Linked DNA regions of Homo sapiens. The protein of the gene in region 2 purifies or fractionates together with the protein of the main gene of each other region. This does not show direct contact. Each region holds a gene or a part of one and is shown on either strand. Other genes may lie near its edges. The genes, in order: R3HCC1L and LRRIQ3.

Region 1 (8,465 bases), on a different chromosome or scaffold from region 2:
GCTGAAATCTCGTCCATATTCTGCACCCTGGTGATGGGCCATGACCATCTGAAGGAAGGGAGCACTTTTTCCTAATTTTCATAACACTACTATATGGGTTAGTAGAGGCCCTGTATTAAGGAATGTGACAGTGATGGGGCACAGAGTTTAGCAAGTAAAATAAATAAGTTTATTCGACACAGTTATAGTATACCTACTATGTGCAAGGCCCAATTCTAGGGGCTGAAGATACAGAGATGGATATAACCTATTAGTGCCCTTGGGTCCTCTTTTTCCTTCACCAGTCCATCCTCTCCTATATTCAATCCATCAGCAAGTCCTGTTGACTCAAAAGATCAAATACACCCACTTCTCTCCATCCCTCTGCAAGCACTTTGTTTCATTATTTCTCACCTAGCCTACTGCAATAGATGGGCTCCCACTTCTACTCCAGTCTTCTAAACCAAAGCAGGAGCAATTGCATTAAAATATGAATCAGATAACATCATCCTCTTTTTAAAACCCCCTTTTTGGTGGCTATAATTTAATCCAGGGTTCTGACCATGGCCTTGAGGCTGTGCATACCTGGCTCTAATTACCACCTCAGGTCATCTAGACCACTTAAACTACACTCTCTCTACCCCAGGAAAACGGACCACTCTGTCCCTCAAACAGCCTGGCTCTTTCTTTGTGTGGTCTGATCCCTTTGGCTGGAGCACACTTTCCCCGGTTCTCCATCTCTTTCTCAACCTTCAGTGCTCAGTGGAAAGGTTGTCTACTCAGAGAGGTCTTCTTAGACCACCTTGTTAAAGTAGTGTAGTATTTTATGTCCATCACTGTAGTCATTGGTTCTTGCATTCCTATAAAGAACTACCTGAGACTGGGTAATTTATAAATAAAAGAGGTTTAATTGTCTCATGGTTCTGCAGGCTCTACAGGAAGCATGGCCAGAGAGGCCTCAGGAAACTTACAATCATGGCAGAAGGTGAAGGGAAAGCAGGTGCATCCTACATTTCTGGAATAGGAGAAAGAGAAAGACGGCGAGGTGCCGCACACTTTTAAGCCATCAGATTTCATGAGAACTCACTGTCACGGGAACAGCAAGGGAGAAATACGCCCACATGATCCAATCACCAGGCCCCACCTCCAACATTGGTGATTACAATTCGACATAAGATTTGGATTGGGACACAAATCCAAACCATATCAACTGTCATTCATGGCCAGGATGTTCTACTGCACAGCAGCCTGCTCCATTTGAAAGTACAGAGTTCTTTGCTTATTTCTTGTTTTATCTGCTAGATTATAAGCTCCGTTACAGTAGGGACCATGCTTGTGTGTTCTCCACTGCGTGCCCCCTCATCACCTTGCTAAGTCTCTGGTGCACAGTAATAAAAATCAATACATATTTGCTCAATGAAGTTGATACAAGGAATTCTTCCAATAGAGGAGTGGACATTACAATATAATGTAGATGTGTGATATGACAAAGGCATTGATATGCTAGTAAACTGGCTCTTCGACAGCAACAACAACAAAAAGAAGCCCTGATTTGTCATTTGCTGATTTCCACGGAGTATTTACACACACACACATTACAAATCACAGCAGATTTCAAACTACCAATGGCTAAAACCGGCTTGCAAAAATTCCTGAACATCTAACAGTTGTCTCTTTAAAGCTGGTATGAGGCTGGGGGTGGTGGCTTATGCCTGTAATCTCAGCACTTTGGGAGGCCAAGGTGCAAGGACTGCTTTAGCCCTGGAGTTCGAGACCAGCTTGGGCTACAGAGTGATAACTCGTCTCTATTAAAAAATTAAATAAATAAATAATAAATAACAAAGTTGGTATGAGCTGGCTCTAGCATATCACTGGAAGAGAGGCCAACATGGGTGGGATGAGTGTCCAGGAAAGGAGCACTAATTTGTCTTGGTGGGGGTGGGGGGCCGAGTTCAGCAAAGGCTTCCTGGAGGAGATGATACTTGACTTGTGTTTTGAAGGGTGGGTATGCTGGCTCTGGCCTGATACCTCTAAACTGAATAACATAGTCCAGTTCCCCATAGGCCACATTTCACTGTTTCTGGGTCCCCTACTGAGCCCACTGCTGTAATGCCTGAGGCTTATCATCTGACTCAGCACAATCCTCAGAAAATCCTTTCGTGTGGCTGGTGTTCTACTGGGTTTCCTCTGAATCCCACAGAGGAGAATTACATAGCAGTATAAGTTAGTCAAGGGAGAAGGGAGAGGGTTTTCCAAACAGAGGGAGAGCTTATACAAAGGTTAAAGAGCAAGCGCTACAGCAGTTTGGTAAATCTAAGGTGTCTATGGGAGGGAGAAGAAGGAGATTAGCTCCTGACAGGCTTTGTTTGATAGGGTAAGGAACATAAACTGATTCCCAATCTGGGCTGGGGCAGGTGGGAGAGAAGGGGAAAGGGACCAATTATAATACTTTTCCTCCATAATTCTTATTACAGCTGGTAACTATGGGTTTTTTGTTGGTTTTGATTTTTGGTATGAAATCATTTAATATCTGTCTCTTCCAAGAGAATGTAAACTCCACAAGGGCAGGTAATATTCGGTTCACTGTTGTTTTCTCAGTACCCAGCACTGGTACATAGCAAGCAACAAAATGTATTTTGTTGAATGACTGAATAACCAGGGAACTTTATTTTATTTTTAATTTTTTTGAGACAGGATTGCTCAGGCTGGAGGGCAGTGGCACAATCATGGCCCACCATAACTTTATTCTTGGGCTCAAGCAATCTCCCCACCTCAGCCTTCCAAGTGGCTAGGACTACAGGCTTGTGCCACCATGGCTGGCTAATTAAAAAAATTTTTTTTTGCAGAGATGAGATCTCCTTATGTTGTCTAGGCTGGTCTTGACCTCCTGGGCTCAAGTAATCCTCCCACCTCAGCCTCCCCAGTTGCTGGGATTACAGGCATGAGCCACCACAGTGGGCCTCCTCGGGAATTTTTTAAAAAATGCCCATGTCCACCTACCCTACAGTAAGATTTCCTATAAATCTTCTTTCACTGAACCTCCCAACCACAATACTGGATTCTGATTGCCTGGTGAGTTTTTCCTGCCCACTGCACAGACAAAACCAATTCACTGAGACCATGGCAGAGCAGTAAAGAATTTAATTGATGACAGAGTTATCTTAAATCAAACTCCCTGAAGGTTCAGAGGTTAGGGTTTTTATGGACATTTTGGTGGGCAGGGGGCTAGGGAATGGGTGCTGCTGATGGGTTGGGAATGAAATCATAGGGGTGTGGAAAACAGTCCTCATGCTCTGAGTCCACCTCTGGGTGGGGCCACAGGAGCAGCTGAGTCATGAGTTAGGAGTCCTGAAGAAGGAACAGATTCAAGGAGTACTTGGGAGATAGTGAGAGAAGAAAGAGACCCTCTCATATTGTTTTATATTGTTTTATACTCAGTACCTGTTTTAAGAAAAAAAACAAGGAAGTGAAACCAAAGGCAGGCAGCCCAGCACCAGGCACCAGACCCAAAACCAGACCTGAAACCAGGCCTGGGCCTGCCTGGCCTAAACCTAGTAGTTAAAAATCAACTCATGACTTAGCATAGATTCCAGGCATTGTATGGAAGAACATTGTACTCTGTTCTGTTTCACTCTGACTACCACTGCATGAAGCCCCTGTCACATACACCCCAGATTGCTCAATCAATCACGACCCTTTCATGTGAAATCTTTAGTGTGGTGAGCCCTTAAAAGGGACAGAAATTGTGCACTCGGGGAGCTTGGATTTTAGGACAGTAGCTTGCCGATGCTCCCAGCTGAATAAAGCCCTTCGTTCTACAACTTGGTGTCTGAGAGGTTTTGTCTGCGGCTCGTCCTGCTACAATAGAATCTCCAAGATTTGGTGACCATTTGAATATTGGAGGAAGAGGAAGTGAGAAAGGAGGAATCAGGTTAAAGAGTGAATATTAATGAGTAGGGAGGAGGGGTAGTAGTTTACTTTTCTTTTTTTGGGGGACGGAGTCTCCCTGTGTTGCCCAGGCTGGAGTGCAGTGGTGCAATTTTGGCTTACTGCAACCTCCGCCTCCCGGGTTCAAGCGATTCTCCTTCAAGCAATTCTCCTGCCTCGGCCTCCTGGGTAGCTGGGATTACAGGTGCCCACCACCACGCACAGCTAATTTCTGTACTTTTAGTAGAGACAGGGTTTCACCATGTTGGTCAGGCTGGTCTCGAACTCCTGACCGCAGGTGATCCACCTGCCTTGGCCTCCCAAAGTGCTGGGATTACAGGCATGAGCCACTGTTCCTGGCCCCAGTAGTTCACTTTTCAAGGACACTGGAGATGCCTGTGGGCATGGATGAGGAGAGGTCTTGTCTAGGAAGTTGGGAATACAAACAATGAGCTCAGGTGAGAAGGGACTGGAGTGTCCCCTCTCCCACCCCAATTTTAAGAACTCTGGAAAACACCAATATTTTAGAGGTAAGTTAGAGGAAACAAAGTAGAATGAATTCAGAGAAGGAAAACCTGGATAGTGTCATAGAAAATAAGTGATAATGCCCAATAGCGTCAAATGACTAAAGCTTGAGTTAGATGAGTCCGGAAATACCTCCAATGAGTTTGGCAACAAGGACACTTATGACAACAAGGCATTTTCCATGGGGGCGGAAGCTGCGATGAGGAGTGAACACAGATGAGCAAGTAGAGACAGTGTAGATTATCTTTTTCAAAAAACTTGGCTGTGAACGGAGGAAGTGAGATGGTATAATTGAGTGGAATGTAAGGAGATTTGCGCACGTATATAGCCGAGAGGAATGAGGAAGGGTTGAAGGGACAGGAGCAGAAATGCTCTCCGGCACTCGCCATTTTGCCAGCTTCTCCCCTACGTGACCTGAACTCAGTGGGCGCGGCCGGGCCTCGCGGAAACTACAACCCCCAGAAGGCCCCACGGCGTTGGGGGCGGAGCCGAGGCCTGACGCGCGCCCCAGCGGCGCGAGCGGAAGAGATAGAGCTTCGCGGAGACGGCGGAAGCGGAGAGCAACAGCGCGCCGGTAACAACCAGCCCCGTATCCCCTCCCTCTGTACCTCAAGCTAGGATTTTTAATCCCCACTTCTCCCTTCACAGCCCGGGACAAGACTTCCATTCCGTCGTTTGTTGCTGGTATTTTTTTTCCTCATGTGACGCGAGGGGCCGCCCCCTGCCTGGGGCGGAGGTTACTGGGAAGCTCCCGCCTTCTGACCCCTGCGGGCCCGCGGTTGAGAGGGACCCTCCCGGGGCTCTTTTGCACTCACTGGGGCTCGTGCTCGCTTTGGGCGCTCGCCCCAAATGATCCTGGCGGAAAGGACGTGCTTTTTCTGGGTTTCAACAGGTATTGAGCGGGGTCCCTGGTTACCCCCTCGGGGCTGCGGGGCCGTGGGCCCCCAGGGCTGCCGGCGGTTTCCGGGCTTCGCTTCGAGCCTCGCCTTTGAGCCTCCTCCGCTGCCCGGGAGCCCCGGGCTACGGGCTGGGAGTGAGCAATCTATAAAGGAGCATGTACTTCCTGCTTTTTCTTGGCAGGCCTGCGAAAAACCCCAAGTCCGATCTTTAAAGTTTGTGAGTGCAGCCCCCTCTCAGTTGTGTACGGGAAGGAGCACAGGATTTGGAGTCTGATATCCTGGGGGAAGTCTCAGTCCGCCACTTGGCTGGACCTGTGATCTTTTGTACAGTAGTCTGTTTAGCGCAGCCTCGGTTTCGTTGTCTGAAAAGTGGGGTTAATGTTCTTTGCCCTGCGGCCTTCCAGGGTTGTGGGCTTCAGCAGAAGTGATATTCCTGCGAAAGCTTTGAACTCTAAAGTATGTTTCGGGTATAACCTTGCCATCCCCCAGTCTCCAGTCTAGGTCAGTTGAGTTTTAAAACCAGGTTCATGTCTATACGAAGATCAAATTAGTTAATAAATAGGGGGAAAGTGTCTTTGGAAACGAATCTGAACCATACAGATGTTTTTATGCCAGGTTCCTAGTGAAGAGGTGACCTTAGGGCGTTACCACCTGTGGAGTCAATTTAAAACTTCATCTGGATTTTAAGGCCCACCAGAATTTAGACTCTTCTTCCTCAGCACACACAACTATCTCTTGCTGTTATAACCTTCCTTCAGTATCACACAGGTACAAGCATAAAGCAGTAAACGTTCCTCAGATATGGTTGTACTACAACTAATACCTGTCCCCAGCAGGTCTTGTGTCTTGTGTCACAGTTGAAATTCAGAATATAAATAGCCAAATATCCCATCTGTTTAATTTTTTTTGACATTAAGCTTTGAGACTAAGCAAGTTGCTTATTGTCTTATTTTTCCCCTTACAGAGAATGCTAATTCTGCAATCAGTTTTTTTTTTTTTTTTGGGTAGAATCAGGATTTCACTATGTCGCCCAGATTGGTCTAACTCCTGGGCTCAAATGATCCTCCCGCCTCGACCTCCCAAAGTGTTGGTATTACAGGCGTTTGACACTGTGCCCACTGTGCCCGACCTCTGCGATTAATTTTTAAAGGGGTAAGAAAGTGTAGTTAGGTATTTTTAGTCTGTGTTTATTCTGAATTTATTGATTGAAGAATACTTGAAAATGGTCCAAAAAACAAGAGAGGATGACAGTAAGTTGCATTAGCTTAGTGTACAAATTCGAGCAAATTTGAGTTCAAGTCCTGGTGCTGTGTCTTACTACAGGTTGGAGTATCCTTATCTGAAATGCTTGGTACCAGAGTGTTTCAAATTTCAGATTTTGGTATATTTGCATATACATAGTTAGATATCTTTGGGATGGGACCCCAATCTAAACATGAAATTGATTTAGGTTTCATATATACCTTATATACATAGCCTAAAGGTAATTTTATATAGTATTTTTAATAATTTAATAATTTGTGTCCAGACGCGGTGCCTCACGCCTGTAATCCTAGCGCTTTGGGAGGCTGAGGCAGGCAGATTGCCTGAGCTCAGGAGTTCAAGACCAGCCTGGGCAACATAATGAAACCCCATCTCTATTAAAAGTACAAAAAATTAACCAGGTGTAGTGGTGCACGCCTGTAGTCCCAGCTACTCGGGAGGCTGAGGCGCGAGAATCGCTTGAGTCCTGGAGGTGGAAGTTGCAGTGAGCAGAGATTGGGCCACTGCACTCTAGCCTGGCCGATAGATTGAGACTCTGTTGGGCATAACACTAAGTTTGGATTGAATTTTTACTAAGACCTGTCACATAAGGTCGGGTGTGGAATTTTCCACTGGTGGTGTCAAAAGTTTTTGGGGCTGGGCGCGGTGGCGCACGTCTGTAATCCTGGCACTTTGGGAGGCCGACGTGGGCAGATCACGAGGTCAGGAGGTCGAGACCATCCTGGCCAACATGGTGAAACCCCATCTCTACTAAAATACAAAAAAAATTAGCTGGGCGTGGTGGCGTGCGCCTGTAGTCCCATGTCCTCAGGAGCCTGAGGTAGGGGAATCGCTTGAACTCGGGAGGCTGAGGTTGCAGTGAGCCGAGATCACACCACTGTGCTCCAGCCTGGCGACAGAGCAAGACTCCCGTCTCAAAAAAAAAAAAGTTTGTAAGCATTTTGGATTTCGGATTTTCCGATTAGGGATTCTCAACCTGTAGTTTTTGATTTTGGGCAAATTAGTTGACTTCTCTGAGCCTGTTTCCTAATCTCTCAAATGGAGGTAAATGGCATTATGTCACAAGGTGTCTACAAAGATGAAATGAGATGTGACCATAAATGGCTTACTAGTGCTGGGTACAAATAAAGTTCTCATTATTTTGTTGCTGTTGTTATTGATGATTATGATAATAGTGATGATGATAATTTTAGGTATTTTCCTGAAATTCCATTTATCTGTAAAATGAGGATAGTCATCCTTAATTCACAAACTTTAAAAAATACTGTAAATAGAAGTTGTCAGATTGCAGTTTGTTTTTTAGCAATTGCATTTTATATAAAAATTATATTAGATTTTTTTTCAACTTTAGAGGTTCCTAAAATGCTGTTGTGCAAGGTTATTGGGCTTTGCTGTGTTTCTGTTTTTCTAGAGATTCCAAATGTTGCTTTGTACCTAGTTTGTTGAAATTGAACTGGTGCTTCATTTACAACCTGTAGTAAGAATGCAATTCTGTACATTGTAGCTTGTAGCAGAGCAATTATCTATCTTTATGACTCAGATATTGACTAGGATAGACGTTTATGGAACAGTTTTGTCTTCCTGCCTTATTTTTATTTTTATTTTTTTTAAGCCAGACTATTAGACTTTAAAATTTAAGCTTATTGGATAGGGTCTGGGAGACTTGGTGACCTTCATTTTTTCAAGATGGCATTTCTTAGTGACTGATGCTAATGATGGCATTGGTATGTATGTATCTGCAGGGAGTGAGAGTTGAGAAAAACCAAGGAGGAAAGCCTTATAGAGAAAAATGGTTTGTTGGTCAAGGCAAAGTCTTGGAGTTTAGAATTGAAGTATATATTTTTTACTTCCTTCAAGTGCCATGTTGACTAC
Region 2 (8,511 bases):
ACCACAATTTCATGTCCAACAACTGCAAGCTATTGAAATTCTAAAGATGCGACATCCTCTTTACCATAAAAAATTCTTCCAATATGTTTTTTTCTTTTCTATTTAATTTTTTTTTTACTCTTACCTGCTGAGATCAATTATCCTTTATCTTCATTGGTTACACTGCTTTCTACCCACAAAATGAGACAGTGCCCCAAGGTTGTGTCCTTAGTTTTCAGCCTTTATTGATCCCTGTATTTACCTGAGAGAACTAGGCTTTAACTATGACCCCAAGCAAATACTCCTGAATTTACAATCAAGTCCAGAACACTATTTCTGAATTTTTGTTTTTCATTTCCAATGTCTAGTTATTATTTCTTCTTTAATATCCTGCCTCAAAGAAGTATGACCAAACTTATCTTTTCACCAAAAGTCTTTAAGTGCTGCCATTTCTGTTAAATAAGTTCTTTTCTGTCCCAGTTATCCAGCTTCAAAATAGTAGAGGAGTATTTCCACACTTATTCTTCTCCTCTTTCCACACTCAGTGTGAAAAGTACACTCAAATCTCTGCACTGTCTGTCATTTGTGATGCAATGTTGACTGCAGACTTGTTGAAATCCCACCTCATGACTCATTTGCTGTCCAATATTGGGTAAGTTCCTAAACCTCACTATGCTTCATTTTCTCCTGTAAAATAAGACTAACATTTTTCCACATCCAAGGAAACAATGAGGAATAAATATTCTTCAAAAAGGCCTTCCCCATCCACCCTAGCTAATGTAGCCCAAATCTCTACCCCTTTCAGTCTGTGTTAATGCCTTACTTTCTTTTCTTTAGCAACTAACACTAGCTGACATTTTATGGTTGTTTAGTTTTATTTTTGTTTCCAGATTTGTCTATTCTCTGTGCCTTTCCCTTGGACTTAATGAGGACAAGAATTTTGTCAGTATTATTTACCACTGAATCTCCAAGTCCCAGACAGTCCTTTTCATATATTAGGTACTCAGTATATACTTGGTGAAAGAATGAAGAAATAAAATGTATAAAGCGCCTACCACAATGGCATTCACTGAATATGTGTCTGTCCTCTACACTGTGTTCTTTCTTCTTTATTACTGGTATCTGCCTATATCAATCCTAATCACATCATTTTGAACCTACAGTAATTGATCCCCTTGCCCTCATTTGGCTTCTATCCTCCATTAATCTGCTAGCAAAATGTTGGGTTGATCACCTTTTAAAAACCTTGTCAATACCATTTATTCATAGAGCACTTACTATGAGGGACCTACCCTAATTTTCCTACTCAAATAATTTCAATTAATCTTCATTATATTCATCAAGTCTAAGCTCTTTAGTAGGTCATCCAAGTTCTTTCTCAATGCCCACTGCCCAACTTTCCATTACTTCCTTAAATGAATCTGTCACTTCGATTATCCTTAAAAGGGTCATGCCTGTTGCCACCTTTCATTATGCCATACTACGCAACTGAAGTACCTAAGTGAAATTCTTTATTTAGGGCCCAGGTTAAGATATCAGACTTAAATACTACCTTGTTTTTTATATTTTTAACTATTAGTACAAAATTATTACCAAAATCCTAAATTTTTAAAACTATTACAAAATCACTAATATGTCCCTAATTAAAAAAATTATATGCAGTAATAAAATTCTTCCAACTTTGTAATTTTCAGTTTTTCCACGCATAATCACTGTTCAATGTTTATATATTCTTTTAGATATACTCACTGTTCAAAATTATGTTCTATTCTTCCTCAAAATTTCTACACACATATATGTGACTTCACATATCTTTAGAACATATTACAAACATTTCCTGCAACTTATTGTTACTATATCTTGTACCTAATTTAACCCCCTCTTTTGAACTCTTAAATGATTTGTTCTAATATTTATTCATGTGTTATAAAGAACGTTTCCTTATGTTTTTGTAAATCCACTTAATTAGTCTGTATCCGTTAACTTGGTATCAACTTTTCACAATCACTTCTTCTAACATTTTATAAATCAATAGATAATGATGGTTTTATCTTGTCAAATAACCAAATCAATTGTGTAAGAATTAAATATTTTATCTTCTAATAATAATCTAAGTCATCCTTTAACGCTCTTAAAAAACATTAAGTATTTCTCAATGGAGTCTTTCATATACCAAATTCTGAATAAATTAGAGATTTACTTTCAATTTAAAAAACAAAAATTTGTTTCTCTACAATTTGATCATTTCAGGCTTTGTTTAATGTAGTTGGCATGCAAACTTTTATCAAGTTTCAGATAGAAAGACATTACAAATATATTCATTGGTTTATATTATTTTATATAAATGATGCAAAAATATTAAAAAGTTTATATAATTTAGATATAGAACTCAGAAGCTAAAATTTCCCTTTTATACATTTAATTAAAATGAAACCCTAAAGAAGCCAATTACCTTTCTCAAAGCTGGGCAGAAATTAAAGAAAAGTCGATGGTTACATGCTTTGAATCTTTCAGGAAGATGCCAGTTCTGAATTATTTCTTCATCAGAAATCACATGATGATCCAGCGCTTTGAGAGGCCATATACTGTTAACAAGAACATGTCTATATCCTTTTTTAAGGCTTACTGGACAATCAAACATAGTGAGGGCAATGAGGGTTGGACAGGCAGATAATACACATATATTCTTTAACTTTGCAAACCCATTGTCATGAAGATAGAGTAGTTTTAGGTTCTTCAATCCATTCCAAAATTTGGTATTTGGTAGACTCTTTATCTGAAATATTATTAAAAATCTTTTAAATTCCAAAATTACTTTTTTCGAATAGCACAGAAAATGGTAAAATATTACACATATAAAATTCAATATTCCCCAAATAGCAAGTTTCTAATTAATAAGCAAACAGAGTATTTATAATTATCCAATGATGGCCAGTTGAAAACCATAATACACTGGGTATCTGAGATAATTTATTATTATTCGCATAGTAAAATGCATAACCATACTTTTTTGTTCAAAGAAAATTTCTTTGTAATAGGTTGACTCTTTAAACTTTTCTAAAATACTTTCCTTACCTAAGGAAAATTAAGGAATCATGAGGCATTCTTAATCCAGGCTATAGATTTAAGAAGTGAAACATACCAGATTACACACTATTTATGTATTTTCATTTACATCAAAGTGTCCGTATTTATATACATCTTACATGCTTTTAATTTATTGTTAAATTTTTGTTTATATTTTAGACAAAAGACCATGTTGAAGAAATACTGTGGATAGGTAACATAAGTACTTATTATAAGACTGAAATTTCGTTTATATGCAAATATCTGAAATGGCTATTGCTTACCTGATTTCCATGGAGATCAAGTTTGATTAATTTTATACAACTTTGAAGTGGATGAATATCTGTAATAAAATTGTTTGAGAAGATGCATACTCTAAGAGAGATGCAAGACTGCAAATTTTCCATAGACTTTAAATGAAGGCCATTGAACTTCACAAAAACAAAATCTTTTTGACCTTCTCTTATGTTTTCATTATAGTGACTCCATTCTTCATGACTGGTTAGCTCTTCTGTGACTGTTCCATGAAACATCTAGGAAAGATAAGAAAGTGCTTTGATTTTTTTTTCCACTTTCAAAAATTTACCTGAAAACAAACAAAATTTTGCCAAGAGATAGCGCAAGTAAAAAGTGTTATTAAAGTTAAAATTTAAAAAAACTCATTCTTATAGAACTTTCTATCCCAAAATAACTTAAATATCTAACATTTCAATAACAGCCAATCAGAATGTTATCACTGCCCTCACCAGTGAACGAACTAATTAGCAAGAGGAAGACAAACTTCCATTTTCATAGAATATTTGAAAAATTCAGTGAAGAAACTGAGATAAAATCATCCCTTCTAGACAAGACAACTAACAACAAACAAATGAAACCATACTTTATATAACTCGTATGATAATTTTTGTTAAAATATACTGTTAAAGAAATACACTGAATAATAAACAAGTCAGGAGAGTGATAATCTTTGTTAAAGAGGCTAAACAATGCAGCCAGATAAAATAAAGGTGCTATACAGGCCTTCAAATGTTATCAACAATATTTGTGTCTTACAGAGAAAATTTGTTGTCAAAATATTTACATTCAATTCAATTAGGAAATTAGGCTCAGAATTCTAATAGCTTTAAATTTTGACTACTTAAATTTATCTAAAATATTTGGATAAATGGTTTTTAATATAATTTTACACAGTATTTCTCATATATGTGAATTTTCACTTATTAAGAGTAATTTCAGCTTTCATAAAAGGTAGTCAGTGATAGGTGAGAAGAGAATGTATGAGCTGAAGTGGTCTATTTGGAAGTATGTTTTAAGATCAACATTCCCCAATGGAAGAATCGATTTCTACGATGTGCAGATAAACTAAATCAGTGTGATTCAAATGAGAATAAATGTGAAAATCCAGATACACTCTTGTACTCTTTCAAGACACTGGTTACTTTATATATCACAACCAAGGCCTAAAACTAGAATCCTCCAGCTCTAAGTGTCAATGAATTAATTAGAAGGCAGATTCATGGGCCCCATCTCATATCTACTGTATCAGAATTTCTGGGCTAAGGGCATAGGAATAATGTTAACAGGTGATCGACGAACACCTTATGAAAGATTAGCCTCAACTACAAGTAAACCAGTCTTAAAAATATAGAGTCAGATATGGAATACACAGATATAAATAAACCTTTACAAATTAAACTCATGAAGCTCTATTGGTGCTGGGATGTAGGATAATATACACATCATTTGGACTTCCAAAATAGAAAAGATATAAGTCTTTCCTCATTTAAAGAAAGCTTAAATTTAAGGTTCCTCCAAGTCTTTAGAAAAATAACTCATTTTTTAAAGTACTGAATAACATTCCATCGCATGGATGCACTATGGTTTGGTTTATTTATCCATTCACCTATTGAAAATGTCTTGGCTGTTTCCAACTTTACACAATTATGAATAAAAGTGCTATAAAAATTTATGTGCAGGTTTTTGTGTGGATATGTTTTCAACTTACTTGGATAAATACCAAGGAGTTTGTTTGCTGAATCACATAATATATTTCATTTTGTAAAAAACTGCTACTGTCTTCCAATGTGGTTGTACCATTTGGACTCCCACCAGCAATGAATGAGAGATTTTATTGCTCCACAACCTCACCAGTACATAATGTTGTCAATGTTTTGATTTTGGTCATATTAATAGGTGAATAATGGTATCTCATTGCTTTAATTTGCAATTCCCTAATAATATATGATGTTGAGCATCTTTCATACATGTGGCTTATTAGCCACATGTATATCTTCCTTGGTGAGTTATCTGTTCAGATCTTTTGTCCATTATATTTTGATTGTGGTATTGTGTTATTGTTGAGTTTGAGTACTTTGTATTACTTCAGATACCAATCCTTTGTCAGATATGTGTTTTCCAAAGTTTTTTTTTCCCATTCTGTGGCTTGCCTTTTCATTTTCTTAATTTTCATTTCATTTTTAGCTCATAAATGCATAAAAAGTCCTTGAAAGGGCCGGGCGCAGTGGCTCACGCCTGTAATCCCAGCACTTTGGGAGGCTGAGGCGGGCGGATTACCAGGTCAGGAGATCAAGACCATCCTGGCTAATACGGTGAAACCCCGTCTCTACTAAAAATACAAAAAATTAGCCGGACGTGGTGGCGGGCGCCTGTGGTCCCAGCTACTCGGGAGGCTGAGGCAGGAGAATGGTGTGAACCCAGGAGCGTGCACTCCAGCCTGGGCGACAGAGCAAGACTACGTCTCAAAAAAAAAAGTCCTTGAAAAACCAACACCGATCAACATGGAACCTCAGAGATCTCATTTCTTCACATAATGCTAAAGGTGGCTTTATACTGTTAATCATGGCATTAGTACACAAATTATATATATGTACACAAAATTATATATATAATTATATTTAATATATAGCTATATAAATATATATAAATATTTTTATTTCAAAGGATTTATTTCTCACATTGATTATTCCATCTCTTAACAGTCTATTTTGAAATTTCTTTATGAAGATATTATCTTCTTCCTGGCATTTATTTTCAGGGATTCTCAACAGTGCTATTAATCAAATATAGTTAGTAATGTCTATAGATTCATCCACCAGGAATAATTGTTTATTTTAAACCTTCTGCATTAATGCTATCTATATGCCATTTGAACATGCCAATGAACTACTAATGGTATTATTCCAAAGTGGAGTTTTTTCTATTTTCCTTACTGATCTCAGATATATTAGAGAATTTTCCAAAATGAGAGGTTCTACACTTGTGTGAGACATTCAAATTTTAGCTATTAGATGAATAACCTTGTTAGTAGCTTTGTGACATTAACAAATACTGTTGTAATGAACCTGATAAAATAACATTGTCCCCTCCCACCAAAATTCTTAAATATGTTCAAATATTTTTCTACATAAAATTTGTAATATATAATAAGGGAATTGGTATGATTGGCACTATTGCCTCACTTGAAAACTTCTTGTAAATAAGACATAGAGTTTGAGGAAGAAATGAAATATTGGTTCACACAAATCCAAATTTGGGATAATGCTCATGATATTACTTAATTCAATGCCTTTTTTTTCCATTTTGTACAACAGTTTACTTTTCAGTTTCAATCAAAAAGATGTCTATTAGAAAAAAAATTGTAAGAATTAAGTACTAGTGTAATTAAGGATATATTAAATTCAAATTTGAGATCTTTTTGATGTTACTTAATGCAGTGTCTTTTCCTCCATTTTGTTCAACTGCCTACTTTTTAGCTTTAATCAATGACTATTATAAGCAAGAAAAAAAATCACTAATCATCAGGGAAATGTAAATTAAAACCTTACTCCTGCAAGAATGGCCATAATTAAAAAGTCAAAAAACAATAGATGCTGTCGTGGATGTGGTGAAAAGGGAATACTGCTGGTGGGAATGTAAACTAGTATAACCACTATGGAAAACAGTATGGAAATTCCTTAAGGAACTAAAGGTAGAACTACCATTTGATCCAAAAATCCCACTACTGGGTATCTATCCAAAGGAAAATAATTCATTATATAAAAAAGACACATGAACATACATGTTTATAGCAGCACAACTCACAATTGCAAAGATATGGTACAAACCTAAGTACCCATCAACTAATTAGTGGATTAAAAAAATGTGAGAGAGATATATAGATATATATATATAGGTATATGTTTACACACACACACACACACACACACACACACCATGGAATACCACTCAGCCACAAAAAGGAACAAAACAATGTCTTCTGCAGCAACTTGGATGTAGCCCAGAAGGCTATTATTCAAAGTGAAGTAACTCAGGAATGGAAAACCAAATATCATAAGTTCTCACATATAAGTGTGAGCTAAGCTGTGAGGATGCAAAGGCCTAAGAATGATATAATGTACTTTGAGGACTCAAGGGTGAAGGTTGGGAGGGTCACGAGGTATAGAAGACTACATACTGGGTACAGTGCACACTGCTTGGGTGACAGGTACACTCAAATCTCAGAAATCATCACTAAAGAACCTATCCATGTAACAAAATAGCACCTGTACCCCAACAACTATTGAAATAAAAATTAAAAAACAACAAAAAAAGTCAAAAAATAACAGATGCTGGTGATGTGGAGAAAAAGGAACGCTTATACATTGTTGGTGGGAGTGTAAATTAGTTCAACCATTGTGGAAGACAGTGTGGCAATTTCCCAAAGACCTAAAAACAGAAACAACATTTGACCCAGCAATCCCATTACTGGGTATATACCTAAAGCAATAAAAATTGTTCTATTATAAAGACACATATACGTATGTTCACTGCACCACTATTCACAATAGCAAACACATGGAATCAACCTAAATGCCCATAAATGGTAGACTGGATAAAGAAAATGTGGTACATTTACACCATGGAATACTATACAACCATAAAAAGAATGAGATCATGTCCTTTACAGGAACATGGATAAAGCTGGAGGATATTATCCTCAGCAAAAAAATGCAGGGATAGAAAACCAAATACTGCATTTTCTCCCTTATATGTGGAAGCTAAATTATGAAAACACATGGACACATAAAGGGGAACAACACACTGGGGCCTACTAGAGGGAGGAGAGTGGGAGGAGGGAGAGGATTAAGAAAAATAACTAATGGGCACTAGGCTTAACACCTGGGTGACTAAATCAATTGTACAACAAATTACCCTGAAACAAGATTACCTATGTATCAAACCTGTACATCTATCCCTGAACTTAAAGCAAAAATTTAAAAAATCCAAACTATTAAGAACCCTGGCTTCTTAGTTAATGAAATGTGCTAACCTGCTATCTTAGGATGTTACACTTCTCTCTCAGTGTAACCTTCTTTGGCAAATTATTGTCTAGTCATTATTTAGACTCTGATTCTATCCACACATCCCCAATTTAGTGATTACATATTTATATATGTTATTATTTAA

Evidence for each region.
Region 1: the proteins of LRRIQ3 (region 2) and R3HCC1L purify together in Homo sapiens (affinity purification with mass spectrometry; 2 studies listed by BioGRID and IntAct, with this or other methods). This does not show direct contact.

The regions. Positions count from the first base shown.
Region 1 is NC_000010.11:98,129,702-98,138,166, forward strand, and holds the start of R3HCC1L (coiled-coil domain-containing protein R3HCC1L), read left to right. Parts: upstream 1-4,955; 5' UTR 4,956-5,005; exon of another isoform or gene 5,006-5,323; intron 5,324-8,465.
Region 2 is NC_000001.11:74,180,107-74,188,617, forward strand, and holds part of LRRIQ3 (leucine-rich repeat and IQ domain-containing protein 3), read right to left. Parts: intron 3,579-8,511; coding exon 3,330-3,578; intron 2,756-3,329; coding exon 2,432-2,755; intron 1-2,431.